Linked DNA regions of Homo sapiens. The protein of the gene in region 1 purifies or fractionates together with the protein of each later gene. This does not show direct contact. Each region holds a gene or a part of one and is shown in the gene's direction. Other genes may lie near its edges.

Region 1 (3,653 bases):
CTGACAGCCCTGTGCAGGCCATTCCAAGGTGCCTTCCAACTGGCCTCGGACCACGAGAGGTCGGAGCTGGAGATTCGAGGAAGAAGCCATAGCTGCCTCCTGGGGCTGTGCTTCTCACCAGTGGGGACCCCTGTGATTTCTTTTCCTGCCTGGGACCCTGGCTTCTGCACCTGGACTTGCACCTTCGGCCCCCACACCTGGGGGCTAGCAGCTTCCTGCGGTGGCTGGCCTTCGGGTTGCTTCACTGGTCCTGAGTCCTGGCTTCTTACCTTCCCCTCTGAGTCCCACCGTCCTGATGAGTGCACAGAATTCTGTCTGCTTTAGACACTCGGAGAGACTTCCATTTCCCATGGGCCTTGACTGCAGAAGATTCAGAGTGATTTGGCGCAGGTTCTGAAGTGCTGATCGGAAGAGCCCAGCATAGATTTAGCGTTGCTAGAACCATGTTGTCTTTCCAGGTAGTGACCAAACATGCTGACCTGGAAGTAAGTCCCCGTGTGGCTGAGAGCCACGTGTGTGGAGCGTGTTGCCTGTGGGCTGTGCCCCTGCCGCGCTCCACAGTCCTTCACCTGCATGCTGAGGCTTTTTGCCCTGTGCTCTTTCCCAGGAATGTTTTGACCGAGTCTGCGAGGATCGCCCGTGGCAAAATCACAGACCTGGCCAACCTCAGTGCAGCCAACCATGATGCTGCCATCTTTCCAGGAGGCTTTGGAGCGGCTAAAAACCTGTGCGTATTTGAGCTCCAAGGTCTTCCGCTTTCCATGTGGAGCAGATGGGAAGGGGGTGCACCTGTCTGCTGTCCAATGTGGTCAGTGGAGCGGCGATGGGAGGGGGTGGTGATAGGAGCAGTCTCTGGGTTTAGGGTCTGGGCAGGGCACGTGCCTGCCCTCTGACTTGGGAGCTGTTCTTAGGGTTGGGTCTTAGGTAGCGTTGTAGCGAGCCATGCTTTTGTTTCTGCTTCTCTGCTGCCTCTTCTCTCAGCATTCCTGGTACCCAGCAGCTTGTCAGAGTGGGTTTGGGGCTCCCTCTTATCTCATCACTGTGCTGTAGGTCTCGTCACGTTGAAATCAGTCTCTGAGTATTTACTCCTTGCAAGTGCCAGTTTTTTTTCTCTCTCTCTCTCTTTTTTTTTTTTTTTTTCTGTAGAGATGAGGTCTTGGTCTGTTGCCCAGGCAGGGATGCAGTGGCACGATCCTAGTTCACTGCAGCCATGATCTCCTGGGCTCAAGCCATCCTCCAGCCTCATCCTCCTGAGTAGCCGAGACTATAGGCGCATGTCACCATGCCCATGGTTTTGTTTTTTTTTTTTTTTGGCCATGTATGTAGCCCAAATTGGTCTGGAACTTCTGGGCTCGAGTAACCCTCCTGCCTCCCAAAGTGCTGGGATTCCAGGCCTGAGCCACCGCGCCTGGCCCCAATTCTCTTATGGAACCTTGCAGGATCAGAAATGGGTTTCCTTCTTGGTAGTTTGGGCGGCGGTCCTGACAGGAAGAAGGGAGGCCGCCTTGGCGTGGCTGTTTTGGTAGCTGGACCGTGAATCATGGAGGCCTGGCTGGCTCCCACACGGTGGCGTCCTTGAGTTCCAGATCCTCTTTCTGTTCTCTGTGTCTCCTCTCTCTCTTTGCACATTCATGGAGGTTCTCTGGGCACCGCCCCCATGGCCCTGCCTGAGAGGTGGAGGTGGTGCCAGGCTGACCCTCCAGGGACAGCTCTGCCACCTGCAGGAGCACTGGCCACAGTGCATCGGAGCGTGCAGGTGGCTTCTGTGCCATGGTGTGGGTGGCAGCCCCAGCACGGCCGGCCCCGGTCGGCAGCTCCTGTTTCAAGGGCAGGTTGGAGGCTGGCTGGCCGCTTGCCCCACCCTGGGCAGCCTGCACCCAGAGTCGAGGGGTAGGCAGTCTCCATCCGAAGAATGCGCCCCTCCTTATCCCGAAACCTCAGAGGCCTCCTTCCTCAGATGCCAGCTGTTTTCTCAGTGCCCTTGGCCGTGCCCTCACCCCTCTCTCACCGGAAGCCCCACCCCAGCCTGTCGTCCCCGGTCTCCTGAAAGCCAGCAAGCCTCGTCGGTGCCGCCCACACCCCTGACCTCACGCAGCCCCACGTCAGGCTCGATCTTTTGTCCAGTTGTCCCTGCGTCGCTGCCGTCTCCACGAGGCTCTGACCACTGACACCGTGTGTGGCGGGGCGCAGGGGCAGCTGGAGGGTGTGCTGGGGGCTCCGTGCCCTGGCATGGCTCCTCCACATTTTGCCAACCCAGAGGCACAGGCGTGAGGTGTGTGGTGGTTCTCAGGGTCAGTGGGTCTTGGCCTTGGCTTTCAAGGTGTTGATGGGCCCTGGGACTGATGTGCCCGTGTGTCTGAGCCCACGTCCCCTGGGCGAAGCTCCCATTTTCACTGACCTGTCCAGAGCGTTCTGGGTGAGCCTGCCCTGCGTGTCCATGGTGCGGCGCGCTCTAATGAGCTGCAGCCGTGGCCACTCTGCACCCTCTGAGACAGTCACCCATGGGGACGGCGAACACCCACTGCCTCCAGAAGATTCCCAGCACTCTGCCAGCAAAGCCATGTGGAAAATGCTGGGGCAGAGGACTGGGGTGCGTGAGGGTGGCGTAGAGCCCAGGGGTGGGTTCGTGGGAAGGTGTGTCCACTTGTAGATTTGGTGGCATTGCCAGATCACACGCCCCATGGGCAGTGTGGAGAGACCTCCCCTGCCCCGCGTGCCCTCCACAGCTCCTGCTCCTCGGCCTGAGGTGTGGATGCTGGTGTCGCAGGTAAACTGGCGTTTCTTTCACGGTCATCGAAGCAAGAGTGCTTGGTATGCCTGGAGGCCGACTGCGTTTCTTTTTTTGGGAACTCCTGGAGTTTCCTGCTGCCCCTTTGTTTTAAGGAAAAACTCTCACACCGTGTTTCTCCTCCTCCCACCACAACAGTTGTCCACACAGAAGGTGGGTGTGAAGGGTCTTCCCCATGCACCACGCAGGGGTCGCTGCTGCCTTCTAATTCAGTTCCAACAGTATGGACCCGGGGTAGCGTCCGATCGCACGGGTTGAGGGCTCCGTCCCCAAAACTGCCCTCTGACACATACCGGTAAACTGTCTGAGCCTCTGGAACTGACCAATTGGCTTCAAGTTGGGGTTCCCACAACCCCGTTTGCTGGCGTGGCTCACAGTGCTCAGGGAAACATGACGTCAGCATTCTCCCCCGGGGAGTGGGGGACCCTCTCAGGAGAGGGTCCTGAGACCCACAGTCAGAAAGGCGGGGAACATTAGAGTCCTGCTTTGGGGCAGGTAAAGGGCAGGCGGGAAGGTCAGAGGCTGCCCGAGGCCCGACACAGCCAACGTCGTAACAGAAAGCTAACAAGCAGCACGGGAGTTAGGAGCCGGAAACCAGCGTCTGAGTCTCAGCACCGCAGCCCGGGTTCTGCCAGCTGCTCCGGAAGGTTCCAGGGCGTGGGCCCTCTCGCCCTGGTGGCCTCCTGCTGCACCACTTCCTGATCCTCCTGCTTCCTATGCTTATTTCTGTTTAAAAAACAGGAAAATATGTTCACATCAAACGCGCATATGTGCAGCCATGCCCATGTCCCTTGCTGCAGCTGACTGAGGGTCTGGAGCTGTGCCTAGGAAGCCCCCCAGGAATAGACCCTGGTTGTGAGGCTGT
Region 2 (3,653 bases), on another chromosome or scaffold:
GGACATAGAATTAATTATTTCTTATCCCATCTCCTTTTCTTCCTTCTGTGATTTGCTTAGATTGCCACCAAGGAGCCAATGAATCCCATTAAACAATATGTAAAGGATGGAAAGCTACGCTATGTGGCGAATATCTTCCCTTACAAGGGTTATATATGGAATTATGGTACCCTCCCTCAGGTAACATTTTTGTTACAATGGTAAAATGTTCCTGTCTTCTGAAAAAATTGCCTTATAAATCCTGTGAACTACTGAATTTAAATTGGTTCTGAGGACATGTCATTTGGAGAGGTTTGTAAATTTGGAATTTATTAACGTGGATGGAGTTTTAGTATATCAATAAATTTTGTTTTAAACCATATATATGTCTATACTCAAGTTCTTGGAGTCAGGCATATGGAATGTTCACATTTGACATTTTGAATACATTTTTTTTTTTCTGGTCTTGCCTATTAAGTGTCAGTGAAAAACTTTTAAGCGAGGCTTTATCTACAGTCATTCCTTTGAACATGACAAGTTATGCTTTTATACACATTCATATATGATAGCACAAATTTTATATTTTAAACTTTAACAGATGAATGTGTTAAATTATTAACTTTTTCCTGGAACTCATTGTAAATTGAATTGCACAACTTATTTACTGTTATGAGTTAATAATTTTTAAGTAGAAAGCAGAGAAAACAAGAGCTAAATAATGATAAGGTAGCATTCCTGTTGGAGAATAACAACTATTTGCTTTTCTTCCTTTCTTTACCTCTTTTGGTTTTCTCTCATGTTTCCTCATTCCCAGGAAGAGGTAACTCTTCCAGATTATTTAGTGAGTAAAACTCAGAATATGCTGAATCAAAATTCTAGGTTTTGGGGACACAGAGAACCATCTGCCTTTATGTTTATAAAAACCATAGACCATCTGTCTGGAAATTTAATTTTTATATTTTTATTTATTTTAATATTTTGCATGAAATTTCAAGATGGTATTGGGGAAATATCTGAGAAGAGAGGTCTTGTTTTATCCAACATGAAAAAGCAGCTGCCCGTGTAGAATAAACATTCACAGGAAAATTTAAAAAAAAATTGTTTTCTAAAGAGTCAGGCTGTCTCTGATTCAGTTAGATCACCCACATGGATACATTCTTGGTTAAAATGGGCACTTCTAAAGTGATATGCTAAGAATGAGAATGCCTGTGGAAACCATGAAAGCAGGTTTTCTAACTCTCCAGGTACTTAAATAGGTATGCTGTTTGACCCAACAGCAAAAGGTTGAAAAAGTTCTGTAAAGCTTAGGGGATGCAGCCTGTAGGAAATGTGTGGATGAGGGTAATGCTGAAGAAGCCAATGAATTAGAGACAGACAAAAACAGAGACGTAAGTAGAGGAGCTAGAGAATAAACTAAGGTGCATGTATTTATTTCTTTAAACATTTATTAAGGATTTATGTGCTAGGCAGGATATTAGGTGTTGGGTATATAAAGACAGATGGGATATAGATGTGACATCAAGGCCTCATAATAAGTGACTGGAAAATGTGGGTTTGGGAGTGAGATTGTCACTTTCTAGTAATGTGACCTTGGGCCTTGGGAAAGATACTTTTCCTCATTTTCTTCATCTGTAAAATGGAGAACATAAAATATCTACTTCTTATCTTTGTGTTGAGATTAAATGAGTTACTGCATTTGAATAGTGTGTAACATGTAGTAATCAATTATTGTTATAATTAAGACTGGTACTTTTATTATCGTATGGTTCTTTCCCTAAAGTTGTTTTTAGTCTGATTGGGGCAATCAAGAACTAAACTGCTGGTTATGATGTGGTATAATAGGCACTACTAATTCATCTACTAATTTAAAATTATGAAAAAAATAAAAAAGCAAACCTATTGACAGGAAAGAGAGAAGGGGAGGAACGGAGGTAAAAACAAAAGAAGCTTCTGTAGTTTTCCATTTAAAGTCCTGCCAAACTTCTGTGCTCCTCTGGATGTGTCTGGATTTCCAGATGTTCTGCAGTGGTATTAATCTGGCAGGTACGGTAGTTCTTCTACTAATAAAACAGAATTAGACTGTGGTAGTCCCTTAATTCATTATTCACCCTGCATTCACCATTGCCTACCTAAGTTTCATACTCCATCCAATATCCAAATTGATATTTTTAAAACACAAATTTGCAGATGCTTTTCTTGTACAAGAACACCTTAATGGTCTCCTGTTGCTTAAAAGATAAAATACAAAATTCTTAACATTGCTACTCAACCCTGTGTGATCTGGCCTCCGCTTACTTCTCTATCCTCATTTTGCAGCATTCCCCCTTTCTCACGTCTATCCACCACAAAGTCTTCTTCAGTGTTTCTAACTTACCTCATTGTGTCCTCACCAGGCCTTCACCAAACTGTTCATTCATTCAGTACATATTTATTAAAGGCCTGTATATTTGCAAGGTGTTCTTGTAAGTACTGCAGGTAAAGCAGTGATAAAAAGTGACAGATATTTCTCTGGAGCTTTTATTTTAGTCAGATAAACAGACAATAAACAAAATAAACCCCAAGTAAAATGTCAGGTGGTGGTAAGTATGTCAAAGAAAAGTTAAGCAGGGAATGGGACTAGGGGATATTAGGATTGTTGCAATTTAGACAGGGAGACGATCTCAGTGAAAAGGTGTTATTTGAGTAAAGATCTAAAGGAAGTGAGGGAACAAGTAGTGTGGACATCTAGAGGAAGAGCAGTCCAACAAGAAACAGCAAGTATAAAGGTCCTGAGGTGGAAATAGGCCTAGCATGTGTGAGTATCAAAAAGGAAGCCAGTGTGGCTAGAATGGAAGTGAAAGAGGAAATAGACCTGCATTCTGTCTGCCATTTTCAATTAGAGATCTGTACTACTTTTTTAAACCTGACTGATCTTGGAGAGAGAGAGAGAAAAAGAGAGAGAGAGTCTGTGTGTGTGTGTGTGTGTGTGTGTGTGTGTGTGTGTGTGTGTGTGAATACACCATAAATTGCATATAAGTTAGTTATTTATCAAAGAAAATAACTAAATTGAATGATGTTTTTAAGAATGCTGAAATCATGCCAATTGCTTATGGGATAGCTTATGGAATAGCTCTACCTGATTTTTTTTTTTTTTTTTTTTCTGCTTGATGGTTGATGTTCAGACATGACCCTGTTAAAATGAAAGCCAGCCCCTGGTCCCATTTATCTTTTTAATCTCATCTCCAACTCTCCTTCTGCCTTCTGCTTCTTCACTTCCACACTGGCACTCTGGTGCTCAAAGCACACTGATGTCTCAAGCCCTCACCTTCACTGTGTCCTTTCCTGGGAACACTCCTTTCCAGGTATGCACATGGCTTCCTTAGGTTGCCTTTAACTCATCTTCTTCATAGTATCTGCCAATCATCCTTTAAAACTTTTAACCCTACTCCCATTCCCCCTCTCATACTTTATTTCCCTTTTCTATAACACCTGCCAAATTGTAACCTGCTGTATAATTTATTTATTATGTTTATTGTTAATTTCTCCCAGCTAGAATGCAGACTTCATGAGGGCAGGTATTCTGTCTCTTTTGTTCACTGATACATTCTGACTACCCAGCTTAATGCCTGCCATGGAGTAGGTGATCAATAACTGTGAAATGAATAAATTAATGCATTGTGTATGTGTGTCACATT
Region 3 (3,653 bases), on another chromosome or scaffold:
TTTATCTGGAGTGCACACAGAAGACAGTCACAAAGGGATCAGGTCCCAGTAGACTGACATCATCATTTCCTAATCCTGGTCTTAATAAAGGAACTTATGCTCATGGAAGCAATGTAGAAAACACTGAAAAGTTTAAAGAAGGAAAATCACCTGTAATTTATGGAAACTATTGTATTAACATTTAGATCTAGTTCCTAACAGTTTTTTTTTTTTTAACACATTGAGACCATGCTTGTCTATACATAGTATTTTGCCCTCCAGAGACGAGGGAATATGTCTTATGCCACTGCCTGTGGTGCTGTGTGTACCGCTTATGCAAAGCAAGCTTTCAGTGAGCATTTTAATAAATAAATAAATACTGCTTTTATTTATCATTATATTGCAAACTCTGCGGCCTTAAAGGCATTATAAACATTTGCTGCCGATTTAGATCATCATTGTAGTCCTTGCATCTGGAACAGTGACAGAATAGGGACTCAAATGATTTGTTGAATAAATAACCATATCCTGTTGTTGAATGTTTATTAAGCATTTGAAAATACGCTCCACCTTTTCAGTATCAGGGAATTGAAGACAGTAGTGAAACATGTCATGCTGGTGAACCTTAAAAGTTGGATAACAAGTTGTGTGTATGTGCTTGTGTGGTGCACATGTATGCTGCAGATGGGAGTATAAAATGGTACCAACACTTTGGAGGAGTAACTATCAGTACCCAGTCAAGCTATGGGTGAACAGAGCCTAAGACCCAGCTGCGTGACTCCTAGGTATATATTCTAGAGAGGGGGATCTGCAAACTTACCCTAGTAAAGGGCCAGAGACTAAGTACGTCAGGCTTTGTGGGCTGTGTGGTTTTTGTTGCATCTATTCAACTCTGCTGTTATATAGCCTGAAGTCAGTCATGGGCAATATGTAGATGAATGAGCAGGCTGAGTTTCAATAAAACTTTATTTATGAAAATACAGCTTTAATTACGAAGTAGACTGGATTTGGCCTGAAGACCATAGTTTATCTGTCCCTGGCCTAGAGACTGACTTCTGCATGTGTGTGTTAGGACATGGGTCCCCAACCCCCAGGCCAGGGATCGAGGACTTACAGCAGGAGGTAAGCGGTGGGTAAGTGAGCTTTACCGCCTGAGCTCCGCCTCCTGCCACATCAGTGACGACATTAGGTTCTCATAGGAGCACAAACTCTATTGTGAACTGCACATGTGAGGAATCTAGGTTGTGCGTTCCTTACGAGAATGTAACTAATGCCTGATGATGTGAGGTGGAACCGTTTCATCCCGAAGCTATCCCCACCCTTCCCTGGTCCGTGGAAAAATTGTCTTCCACAAAACCAGTCCCTGGTGCCAAAAAGGTTGGGGACCTCTGTGTTAGGATACCTGTGTTGGCGCGTTCATTGCAGCATGGCTTGCAATAATGAAAAACTGACAGGAAGGGATCTTGGTCTATTAGCAGCAGACCAGATAAATAAACTTTAGTCACATGATGGAAAGCTAAACTGTAGTTAAAATGAACTAGATCTAGATGTATTTAACATGGCTGAATCTCAAAAATACAATATTTAGTCAAAAAGCAAGTTGCAAACACGTAATTATGGCATAATACCATTTGTATATGTAAATGTTAAAGGCATAAAACAGTCCCATATATTGCAGATATGTGTGCAGTGCACTTGTAGCTCCTGGGCAGGAGTGAGATGGCAGCTAGAGGGTAGAGGCCACCTCTGGTGAGGGACTCAGGTAGCATGTGGTTAAGAGTCTGGGCTTTTGTACTCCTGGAAGCCTGGATATAAATCCTGGTTTCACTGCGCTGTCACTGTGAGTTTCGGTAAGTTACTTAACCCTTCTGAGCCTTAGTTTCTTCATCTTATGTAAAGTAGGGATAATTGTACCTGCCTTGTCAGATTTTTGTAAAGATTAAATAAGATTATTTTTGTAAAACGCTTAAAGAGTATGAAACTCAGTAATCCTTAACTCAATAAATGGTATATATATATATATTTTTTTTTTTTTGAGAGAGTGTTACTCTGCTGCCTAGGCTGAAGTGCAGGGGGCAATCTCGGCTCACTGCCACCCCTGCCTCCCGGGTTCAAGCGATTCTCCTGCCTCAGCCTCCCAAGGAGCTGGGATTGCAGGCACCTGGCACCATGCCTGGCTAATTTTTTTTATTTTTAGTAGGGACAGGGTTTCACCATGTTGGCCAGGCTGGTCTTGAACTCCTGACCTCAGGTGATGCACCAGCCTTGGCCTCCCAAAGTGCTGGGATTACAGGTGTGAGCCACCGCACCTGGCCTGAATGGCGTTTTCATTACTTTAGGGTATACTTAATCACTTTTTCCTGCTTTATTTTCCTATGCTTTTTCTGTTGCCTTTCTCAGAAAAGCATTACTGTGAAGGGTGGGTGGTGGAGCATGTTGGTATGGAGAGAATGTCCACACTGTACCTGGTACTATGCTGGGAGCTCAATTCATTTCATTCCTTAGATATCATGGAATCTTCATAATATGTGAGGCGTAGAGTATATTCCCATTTTACAGATGAGGAAACTGAGGCTAAAAGATTAACAGATTTGTCTGAGGCTACATTTACAGGCTAGCAAACCAGATCTACTGATCCTTAAGCCTGTGCCTTGCCCACTCTGCCCCGTGCCTTGCTTTTCCTCTAGTGAGGGTCTACTGATTTCCGTGCTTTCAGCTCAGATCATCTTATCTCGACTTAACGCCATTCTCTAAATTAGAGAATATGAAGAAATTGTGACTCTCAGAGGTGGTGTAACTTGCCCAAGATCACAGAGTCTAGTAGGTAAGAGACAGAGTTGGAACTCATATCAGATTCTGAAGCTACTGTAGTGAGGTTCTACCAGGAAAAATAAAAAGAAAGAAAACTATGATTATGCTGCTCTCGTAATTTAGTGTCCAAATCAGGAGTAATGCCCAGTGTTCTGAATGTGATGAATTTTGAAAAATACCTTTTGAAAGTTCTGGAAGGGAATTTTAAAGTATCATTTCTGTACTCTTTCTGGGTTGATACTTTGGAATATGAATTTGTTTGTATGGGTTTTTTTGGTGGAGCATTAGATGCGTGTAAACTGACTTTGTAAGATAGCCTCCTAACTCCCAGTTCCTAGTGTTACTCTGCCATATAACTTTGCAGTCAGCATTTTCTGCCCCAGATGGAATCACCACCGTCTATCACATATGAAATAATGATTATCATTAAAATTCATTCTTGGATGTGATTTTCTAATTTTCAGGAGTAGCTCTCTGATTCTGAGTTAATTTCAAGTGATATTTGTAAGAACTACCACTGCATATTGCAGTTTTTGAAAACTAAAGTGTGAGAGAGATTAACCATGTGTAAACAGTTACTTGTGGATCCGCAGGATTCATTTTAATATTCAACTTATGAAGAGTAGTCTTTTATTATTATTAGGAGTTTCTCACTTCACTCTATAGGAAGCAATTGGGTATTTCCTTAAATATTTAAACTGGTAATCAACTTTCTTAAAAATGGAAAAGAGCATAGTCATTAAGAAGGGTGCCAACGTTTGGCCTTGATGCCAGCTGCCTATTACACCTATTCATCTAAAAATTAAAGAAGCAGCTAAGTTTAATTTTGATAAACCGTCAGCTGCTGTCAAGAACAGGCAGGT

What was found.
Region 2: the proteins of GATD3 (region 1) and PPA2 fractionate together in Homo sapiens (co-fractionation; one large-scale study listed by BioGRID). This does not show direct contact.
Region 3: the proteins of GATD3 (region 1) and GLRX5 fractionate together in Homo sapiens (co-fractionation; one large-scale study listed by BioGRID). This does not show direct contact.

Annotation. Positions count from the first base shown.
Region 1 is NC_000021.9:44,136,570-44,140,222, forward strand, and holds part of GATD3 (glutamine amidotransferase-like class 1 domain-containing protein 3, mitochondrial isoform 1 precursor), read left to right. Parts: intron 1-607; coding exon 608-727; intron 728-3,653.
Region 2 is NC_000004.12:105,442,910-105,446,562, reverse strand, and holds part of PPA2 (inorganic pyrophosphatase 2, mitochondrial isoform 1 precursor), read left to right. Parts: intron 1-60; coding exon 61-180; intron 181-3,653.
Region 3 is NC_000014.9:95,537,897-95,541,549, forward strand, and holds part of GLRX5 (glutaredoxin-related protein 5, mitochondrial precursor), read left to right. Parts: intron 1-3,653.